Linked DNA regions of Homo sapiens: region 2 is reported to be linked to region 1. The links are microRNA targets in miRTarBase. Many come from high-throughput screens and were not tested one by one. Region 1 holds a microRNA gene; the other region holds the end of a gene's coding sequence.

What was found. Region 1 holds the annotated microRNA hsa-miR-4704-3p (UCAGUCACAUAUCUAGUGUCUA, at 2,368-2,389, shown strand). A microRNA usually pairs through its seed, bases 2 to 8, with sites in the 3' UTR of a target mRNA and lowers its output. Matches are read on the target gene's strand: a 7mer-m8 pairs with bases 2 to 8, a 7mer-A1 pairs with bases 2 to 7 and ends in A, and an 8mer does both.
Region 2: the mRNA of SLC25A32 is a reported target of hsa-miR-4704-3p. The part of its 3' UTR that is shown has no 7-base or 8-base seed match.

What each region holds. Positions count from the first base shown.
Region 1 is chr13:66,215,929-66,221,001 of GRCh38, forward strand. It overlaps MIR4704 (microRNA 4704), which reads left to right and starts at 2,322; the gene lies at 2,322-2,396.
Region 2 is chr8:103,396,066-103,401,138 of GRCh38, forward strand. SLC25A32 (solute carrier family 25 member 32) reads right to left here. Exons shown (of 7, transcript NM_030780.5): 7 at 2,573-4,481. The coding sequence ends at 4,346. Among named protein-coding and RNA genes, the nearest start is that of SLC25A32, 17 kb to the right of the region's middle.

The DNA.
Region 1 (5,073 bases):
CTCAAATGATCCTTCCACCTCATCCAGCCAAGCAGCTGGAACTACAGGTATGTACCATCAAGTCTTGCTATATTGCTGGGATTGAACTCCTGGCCTCAAGCAATTCTCCCAGCTCAGTCTCTCAAAGGGCTGAGATGATGAGCATATGGCACCACAACCAGCCAATATTTCTCGTTAGGTCTCAAGCAGTCATTGAATATCTGCATCCATTCTGCTTCTCTAAAAACTTCTTTACACATCCCTTTTTGATTTTACTATTTGACATCTCTAAAATCTCTTTCTTTTTAAGAGCCAAATCAATAAATGAAGAGACTAATTTCACTGTCAATGCCTTGTCGTTCTTCACTTAGGAGAAATAGGGTAAAAGCAAAACCTCATTACACTACTTTTCTCAATCAAAAACTTTATCAACTTCAGGTTTCCATTCTTACTAATACCAAGAATCAAGAAAACATTCATTTGTTCTTAACTTAACTAGCTCAAATTCTCAGGAAGATGTGTTGGCTACCAACTTGGATTTGTCTTGATAGTAGAATGTGTGGTTCAAGTTAGAGAGTACACGAGAAAATCCAGGGTCAACTGGTTATTTAAAAAATTCTCACTAAAGAGTTTAGTGTCAGAAGAAATGATTTATCAGACTCTGGAACACAGAAAGAAGTACCTAAGAAGAAAAACACCCAACCTCACTAATATGATTTTCATTCTGTGCACAAATAGGTTATTGCTTTGAAACAGGTCAGAGTCTTGAGCTCCAAACAAAGTGGAGCTGTGACTGTGAAGAGTGTGTGTTGATGGGTGCAGAGGTAATGAGATTGCAAACTCAGAAGAAAAGCAAAAGAAAAACAAAAATGAAGAAATCTTGGACTGATGCCTATTTTTTTCTTTCTGTAACTGCGGCCCTTTTTGGAGGAGTTCTAACGATGGGTTAAACCACAAGGAGAAAATTAAACTTCTCTTAAATGTAGTTAAAATCCCTAGAGAGACATGAGTTTGTCACGACTGCCTGAGAAGATATTGGCTGGGATTAAATATTGAATGTGTCTGCCAACAATGACTGCCTGACGTGACACACGAGAGTTTCTCAGTGAGGAAAAAAAAGACCATGTAAGAGTACATGGATTTTATATTTTTCTGTGACTTAGATGTTGGTACCATTTATTAGACGAAAAGAAAAGTGCTGGAGCAGTTGGGGATTTTAAGAAACTACAATTATTGAAATAAGAGCTAAGTGTGATAGGAGGTAAAACCAACTGGGGATATGTAAGAGGTTTGCTGATAAATGTTTAGGGCAGTGGGGAAATAGGATTCCATAGATCCTTTACTGCCAGCAACCTGGTTACATGCTTTTTCTTGATCATAGATAAATAACTTAACTGTAGAAGGTAAGAAGACAAATGGAAGGAGTTAACAGATATTTGAAGATATGCAGATGGTGGGAGAAAGTTCAATGGTAATTGAGAATTGGTTCGCTGACAAGAGGGTTTTCCATAAGAAATAGTCTCTCTATTGGTTTAGAAAAAGTGTAGGACATTAGTAATAAGCTTTTGAATCTCCAAATTATGCCCAATAAATATTCGAATTAGAGTTGCTTCCAGACAGAGATGCCATTCATTTGGGAAGTTTCCCACCCCCCTTCAAATTTCTGAATGGGACAATAGAGGTAGAACCCAGACAACTGGGACATCTTCATAAAATATTCTTGAACATTCATGAGTTGAGTTTAGTGCTATTTGGAAGGAAACTGGTAAGCCTGAGAAAGGCACTAAATTGATAATGAAACACTAAAAAATAGCTTATAATTTGGTGGCATTAATAATTTCAGGTACTCTTTTATGTTTATCTACATTATACCATTTAATAGTCAGAATATACCTATGAAGTAGGTACTATTATTATTATCATTCTACAGATAAGGCAGATAAGGAGATTGAGACACAGAGATATTAAGACTCATACTTAAAGTCACACAAGCAAACGTTAGAACCTGGACTTCAGAGATCTGGCCAGGATCCTGTTCAGTACTTTCGATGTTACTCTAATTCTTCTCTAATTTGGGTTTGCTTCATGAATGTTTCTATATGCTGACATCTTTAAACTTCTGTTTTCTTATCTTTAAAGTTGGAAAAATATTTTATATTTTTTCTGATTATCTCTTGCTCCATAGTAAATTACCCTAAAACAGTAGCTTAAAACAATACCTTTAATTGATTTCATTCACACATTTTTTTCTGCCAAGCCTCGGGCAGCAGTCTTTCTCGAGTCTTTTCTATGGTTGTAGTCAGTTGGTGGCTGGGACTGGAGTCATCTTAAGGATGAATCTTCTTATCCTAGACACTAGGCATGTGAGTGATTGTCTTCCTCACTCAATCAGTCACATATCTAGTGTCTAGAATGAGAAGACTCAAACATCTGGGGGCTAGAACACCTCTTGTCTCTTGATCATCTCTCTGTGTGATCTCACCATGTGTATATGTGATCTCCAGCTGGCCTCTCTAACACATAGTAACTTCAATGAAACCAGACTTCTTATATTGTAGCTTAGGGTTTCAAAACCCAAGACAAAAAGAGCCAGGTAGAAACTGTATTGACTCAAATAACCTAACCTGAAAAGTCCTGTAGTGTCACTAAATTGTACTCTATTCCTTAGACAATTCACTAAGGTCAGTCCATATTCAAGAGGAGGGGAGTTAGACTAACATCTTGAGTGTGGTAGGCTAAATAATGCCTCCCACCCCCCACAAAAGATGCCACTTTCTAATCTCAGAGATCTATGCTATGCTTTACATGGCAAAGGAAACTTTGCAGATATGATTAAGTTAAGGATCTTGAGATGGAGAGATTATCCTGGATAATCCAGGCAGGCTTAATGTAATCACAAAAGGTTCTAATAAGAGAGAGCAGGAGAGTCAGAGTCAGAGAAGGAGATGAGATGACAAAAGCTGAGGTCAGAGTGAGGCCAAGCCCAGGCAAGGCAGCCTCTAGAAGCTGGAAAAGGCAAGGAAACAGATTCTCAACTCAAGCCTCTGGAAGGCTGGAGCCCTTATTTGATTTTTGATCCATTTTGGACTTCTAAATTCAGGAAATGTGAGATATTAAATTTGTGTTGCTTTAAGCCATTTACTTGGTGGTCATTTATCACAGCATCAATAGAAAACAAATACAAGAAGTATCAACTAATTTGTGGGTAGATTTTAAGACTATCACATCTATCATCCTCTTTGATTGGTTGTTCACTAAAAACCCTGTATTATGTGTCTTTCATGTGCTAGCATTGGGTTATATCCCTAAGGATTTAAAGATAAATTAAACATGATTCTTTTCCCCATTATGCTCATAGACAGTATTTATGGAAGGACTTTGTGCAACTCTAAAGGGTAATATAAATGTAATATATTGTGAGTCACTTCCAAAGTTTAATATGCAACCCAACCATTCCTTAATTTACTAAATCGTAAATCAGAATCAATATTTCAACAGATTGGAATTATGCATATATTATGAGTAAATTGCAAACAAATACAGAAGATAATTTGAAAATTAAATGTCAACAGGATTTGCAATAGACATTTACCATGTCTCAAAGTAAGAAAACCTGTTAGAATAAGTATACTGTGGGCAATCTCAGTGTTACAAGGCTGCTAATGAGCCTCTAGTACACTAAGAGACAGCCCCTAGGGATGAAAGGGGAGGATGGCTTATTCTTTCACTGAACTCTTAACTGAGGCAGCTAACAAGGTGCCCAACTGTGATTTAGACACATATCCAGTAGAAACTGGAGATAGAGTGTTAATTTAGTTTGTAAGGGTCACTGAACTAATTCCATTAGGTGACAACTTATGGTCACTACTGATAGGAACAAGAATACAAACCCGAAGCCAAAAAAGAGGGAGAAGAATTTCTTGAACAATCTCACTTACCAGGAAAAGCAATGAGAAAAGAAGCAGTCACTCAACTGAGATGCCTATTTTTGTTATGATATTTAGGTCCTGGAACACCTTTCCACACATGACAGTCACAAACAAAAATATGTAGTGTGACTAGAATATATAAACAAGGTCATGAAAATAAAGTTGATATCCACTAAGCCTTTTTTTAGAGAGCTACATCCACTTCAATCCTTGAAGAAAGTTGTCTGTTCAAAGGATAACAACTCGCAGGGTTAGATGTTAAGAAAGGGGAGTTATCAAGGAAGCTTACAGAAGGGATATTCAGTGGTCTGTCTTGGGTACTGGTGGGCTCTCTTTCCATAGCACAGCTGCCGGCAGCTGGCCAGCACCTCAGGCAGGCAGCTGGTAGGGGAAGAGTGGCCTCTGCCAGCTGGCACTAAAAAATTAAAATTAAAATTAAGGGAAAAAAAAACCCACCCTGAGGCACAGATGCATAACAATCAAGCATTCAGTTTCTGGTGTTCTCCCTTATTCTTCAGTCCTTAGGGAAGCCCAGCAGTGAGGTAGCTCCTCTCTCCCCAACCCAAGGTCCCCAGGCTGCTTTTCTCTGGTTTAGATTCCCTTTTTGGAGGTTTCTCTGTGTTCATGCATCCAAAACACAGTTCTTGAATCATAGCATGTGCCAAGCAATGTGCTAAGGGCTGAGGATGGAAATATAGAAATGAATTACATTTCCTTACTTCCATCAAGGTGCAAATTAAAAGGGCTATAGCTGATTTTTAAATGCCCATAAATAACGACAGAAAGTTGGATGACCATAGTGCTTACGAAACATAGAAGAGAGCCCACAGTGGATGAAGCAAGACAAGTATCACATCAAAAAAGAATAAGAATTAAGGCTTTCTCAGCTGAACAAATGGGAATAGCCTCTTTAAAAGGAATGAACATGAGGAAATAATGGAGGCATAAAATGGAAATTGAATTTTAAAATGTTACTGTACTGTTAGAGTACAGTCTGAGCTGCTACAACAAAAAGACCAAAAACTATAGAAGCTTTGAAATGTCATATATCTCTCTTTGATGGTATGTTTCAGCCAGATATGGCTCATAGGACAGCCCTGTCATCCTCAGTATGCAGTTTCTAGCTTCTGGATTACAGAAGTTGCTTGAGCTCTTGCAATCATTC
Region 2 (5,073 bases), not on the chromosome of region 1:
GTTATAAAAATGGTAATAATACATACTTTATCTGGAGGATTTTATATTAAGTGTCCACATTCAAAAGAAAATATTAACTCTGATGACTCATAAACTCCAACATACTTTTTAGTTGATATCCCTCTTTTAGTGTGTTTAGAAGACATGACTTTCTAAATATTGTCAGACTACAAAAGCACGTATTGAAATATGATAGTCTTCTTTTCACAAGGCATAGTACCCATCATTGTCCATTGTCTTTGATTACATTCTCTGGTGCACAGCTCCAGCAAGTTGGTTTTTTTTTTTTGTTTGTTTGAAACGGAGTCTCGCTTTGTCGCCAGGTTGTACGGTGGCGTGATCTCAGCTCACTGCAACCTCTGACTCCCTGGTTCAAGCTATTCTCCTGCCTCAGCCTCCAGAGCAGCTGGGATTACAAGCACGCACCACCACGCCCAGCTAATTGTTGTATTTTTAGTAAGTTTCACCATGTTGGCCAGGATGGTCTCGATCTCCTGATCTCGTGACCCGCCCGCCTCAGCCTCCCAAAGTGCTGGGATTATAGGCGTGAGCCACCGTGCCCATCCCCTTAGCCTGTATCTTTATCTTCAAGGGTTCTCCCTACAGCCATGTTCTGGTTTTCCCTTTGCCAACCTCTCCTACCTATACTCCTTCGTAGAACTGCAGTACCTTTACAAGCTAAAGTTCTTTACCTTCCTTTCATCTGCCAAAATCCAGGAAAGAAGAGCCCATAGTGAAATAAATACTTACAGTCACCCCACCCCCTAAGTTGCTTGCAATGTGTCATCAGCCTCTATAATTCAAATCTGCTTTATCAGTGGCATCAATCTTCATCCTACTGAAATATCTATTGGTTGACTAACACCTTCTGTTTTGAATTTGTTCCTCCTGTCTGACCAGTCTTCCTCTGTCACCCCTAAGCAGTAGCCATGTCTCTCTGTTCTAATTACTCTTACTTCTCTTTTACCCAATAAAGCCCACATAGGTTGTCAGGCTCTGAGAGTTCTCATGTCCTGGTCTCAATCTTCCATCTTTCTCTTCCTTTTCCTTTTATTATCACATTAATTGACAACTCACTGTTCAAGGCAGGTCACCTGTGCTTTCCTTTTTCCATGGTTCCCTCTGGAATCTTCATTCAATGCCCAGCTTAAATGTTTCCCCCTCCATGAACCCTGCTCTAGTTCCCCCAAGCTATAAATCACCACTTCAGACTCCATCGACCAGGTCCAAGCTGCCACCTGCTCATGACTCGACATTTGTAAAAGCTTCCCAACTAGTATTCCTGCTTTTTTGCCTTTCTCCTGTTTCCTCTATACAATCACCAGAATGATCTCTCAATCAAAACTCTTCACCATGGCCTACAAGGCCTGGTCTCTGCTAACATTTATTGGCCCAGGCACACTAAGCGCCTTTTAAAAATTCATTAATTTAATCCTCTCAATAATCCTACGGCTATGTACTTTTAATATCCTCATTTGCAGTAGATGCTGTTGGTGACTTACCCAGACCCCTTTCACAGGACTGGTGCACCCATACCCTAGCTGCTGTAGGTGTTGGCTGGTAAGAACTGACACCTCCACCCTTATCTGGAGGATTGCCCTTGGCTGAGGAGAGGTAACAGTCACTCCTCCATCCTTTCTCCCTGTAGCCAGTGGTCCGTGACAGCCTGATGTGGGAACCTAATGGCTCAGCCCCTTCAACTCTGGGCAGGACAACGCTGGGCCCAATTCATTCAGCAGAGTGCCCTATGAGTCAGGGTGAGGCTGCACTACTCCTGAAACTCTTCTTCCCCGGCCTTACCCTGCTTGCTTTACTCCATTACAGATTTCTCCTGAAAGTGCTCCCTCAATCACTTGCCCAAGAATCCCCATCTCCGGCATTGTTACAGAGGAAGTGATCTAAGACACCATTTTACAGATCAGGAAACCTAAGACAAAGAGGGCTGAAGTGATCTGCCTAAGGTCAAACAGAAAATGGGAAAGCTGAATTTTGAAGCCAGAGGGCCTGGCTGTCCCACCTGAGCTCTTTCCCACCATACTGCAGTGGCCACTTCTCCAACCTCCTCTCTCTCCTCACCCATCCCCTCTAGCCAACTTAATTCCTCCCTCAGGCCCTTTTTACTTCCTGTCCTCTCTGCCTAGAATGTGTTTCCTCTCACTGTGGCTCGCTTCCTCACTTCTTTCAAAATGTTCCAAATACTATCTCAGAGACCTTTCCTGACCCCAACCATACTACCTAAGATAGCAACACTATTCCCCCGTTCTGCTGTAGTTTTATTTATAGCATTAAATACCTGAAATTACATTATGCATATATTTCCTTTTCTGTCACTTACACCAAGATGAAAATTCCCTGAGGGCAGGAATATTGTCTGGCTTATTTATTGCTATATCCTCAGTGCTTGGTGACGTACCTGCCAAAGAGCAGGAGTTGAGTGACTATTTGTTGTTGAATGACTGAAATTGAGTTCTCTTCTGTCAGAACTCTTACCAGGCTTTGTGAGATATTCCTTACGAGTTCTTAATCTATAGCTGTAATTATTTAATGCATATTTATCTATCACACAAGCTTGTATGCTCTCAGAGGACAAGAATTATGTTTTATTCATTTGGGAGTACATAGGCGGTATTTAAACAATGGTGCTATCTTAAACACCAAATATCAACTGCAGTTCACTTTTTCCGTGTGGGGACTAATATCAAGATTTCATATGAATTATAGTATAATCCAGAAGTATGAAAAAATACATCATATTTAACTTATAAAGCATTCATCTGCATGTTATAAGATATTACAGTAAATACAATTAGGTACTTACCATTTTATCTTTACTTTAAAAACAATGCCTTTTCCAAAATATAAAAAAAAGACCTATTTTTAAAGAACTATTTAAAGATGGCTTTGAAAACAACACTTTTATTTACAACAAATAGATGGTAGTGCAACAGCACTCGTGGATGTTTACGATAAATAAAAATACTAGTATTCTGGCATCCTTTGGGTACAGGCCCTTTTATATTTATAGATGTCTACAATGACTCATAAAAGTAAAATCAATAAAGGCTATTAATTTGTATTTCAACCTGAATTTGAGAAACCAATGAAGATTAATCATTTATTTGGGATCTAGATCCATATATCTGAAAACTGAAGTATAAAGTTTCTCATTTCCATTTACCTTGTCAACAAACATATCCCAAACATTTCAGCATCTGTAAAAGGTGATCTATTTAGCATCTGTAATAAGTGATTTATAGTTATATATGCTAAATAAAGGTTGACACAGCTGGATCCTAGAAGCTCAGATTTTATAAATTTAAAATAGATTAAGTATTTATGCCAAAAAACAAGAACTGGATCTAGGATTTTATTTTAAATTATGGAAGTCTCTGGGGAAAAAAAATAGCAATGGAATGACAATAGATGTCAGATATTTCTCTGAGAAGTATATAGTTTCTCAATTTTCGCTAGGTAGTGCATCCCAACTGAATTAAAACTAAAGCATATTTACAGTGCATTTTTTCTCACTAAAATTTCCCAATTCTAAAATGGTCTGGCCAGGCGCAGTGGCTCACGCCTGTAATCCCAGCACTTTGGGAGGCCAAGGCAGGCGGATCACAAGGTCAGGAGATTGAGACCATCCTGGCTAACATGGTGAAACCCCATTTCTACTCAAAATATAAAAAAAAGTTAGCCAGGCGTGGTGGCAGGTGCCTGTAGTCCCAGCTACTCAGGAGGCTGAGGCAGGAGAATGGCGTGAACCCGGGAGGTGGAGGTTGCAGTGAGCTGAGATCACGCCACTGCACTCCAGCCTGGGCGACAAAGCAAGACTCCATCTCAAAAAATAAATAAATAAAAAAATAAAATAAAATGGTCTGGATTTGGTCAACACCTTATTCAGTAAATCCTTAATTTACCTTGAGACATACAAAGACATTCTTTTAAAGAGCTATTTTCTTGGTATTGCACAAAGGTTAATTTTAAAGCAATCCAGGCAAGTAAGCTCACAAAAAGAAGTACATTCATCTAATCCATTTAGCAAATGTTGCAAATCAGCTTCCACCAATAAAACGTAGAAATCTGTGAAACTCTATCCTTCGTGTCAGTTTTAACATTGTGTTGATGGCAGCCATTTCAGGCAGAGGTAGCCAAGTTCCATATATATGGGGAAGGCAAAAAGCAAGAAAAACATTGCAGGAGACTTAGCAGTTCTCTGGCTTCTAATGACTATAGAGCAATTTCGAATATGAGCCATGTTTCTATGCAGAATTCTTCTTTTATGCCTTAAACACAAAAGAGCTTGTTGCTGCCTTGGGCAGATATACTGGAATTGTCCTCTTTGAGCTTACTTTCTCTTTTCTCTAAGGTCAAGTAAAAAATGTGAGACGTTTTCATATACCACAAAGGTAATACAGCAGGCTGGAGTCACTCTAATCAAATTAGGAGCAATTCCCTTGTAAAATCCACCGACGCCTTCTTTCCTTTAGAGGGAAAAATAGATAATGCTTAATTTTGTATAGAGCTAGCTTGAAAACACGGAAGTTCTAACTGACACAAGGCATGGAGCAAGCAGCAGTCAAACCTTACTCTGATTTAAGTTCATGTTTTCAATGTCCTAAAGTAATGTAGTTTATAAGCCATCTGTAGGGATTTACATTCCTTTTATGGATGGACTGAGTAAGAGAGGGTAGGGACACCTCAAAACTGAACTAAAAAGTGCTTTCAATTAGCTATCTTTCAAATGCTTTTAAATGTATGTACAAGCAGGAGTTTTAATTGACCTAATGTAGGCATTAAAAAACCTCATAGCTTGGATAAATGCTAGCCAACATTAAATACAGCACATACAAATATAAAACTTTATTTCCTTAATGCCAATAATATGGAATACGGCCTAGAAATTTGTCACTTAGGTGCTCATTAAATATTTCTTGAATTGAATTAAATTTAAACATCCTAAATGTTCTCCTCTGTTCCTTTAGAATTAAAGGGAAATATGGTGATGTCTGCCTATAATAATTTAACTAGTCTCATACTGAAGAACAAACATCTCTTTCATATATGGAAACAAGT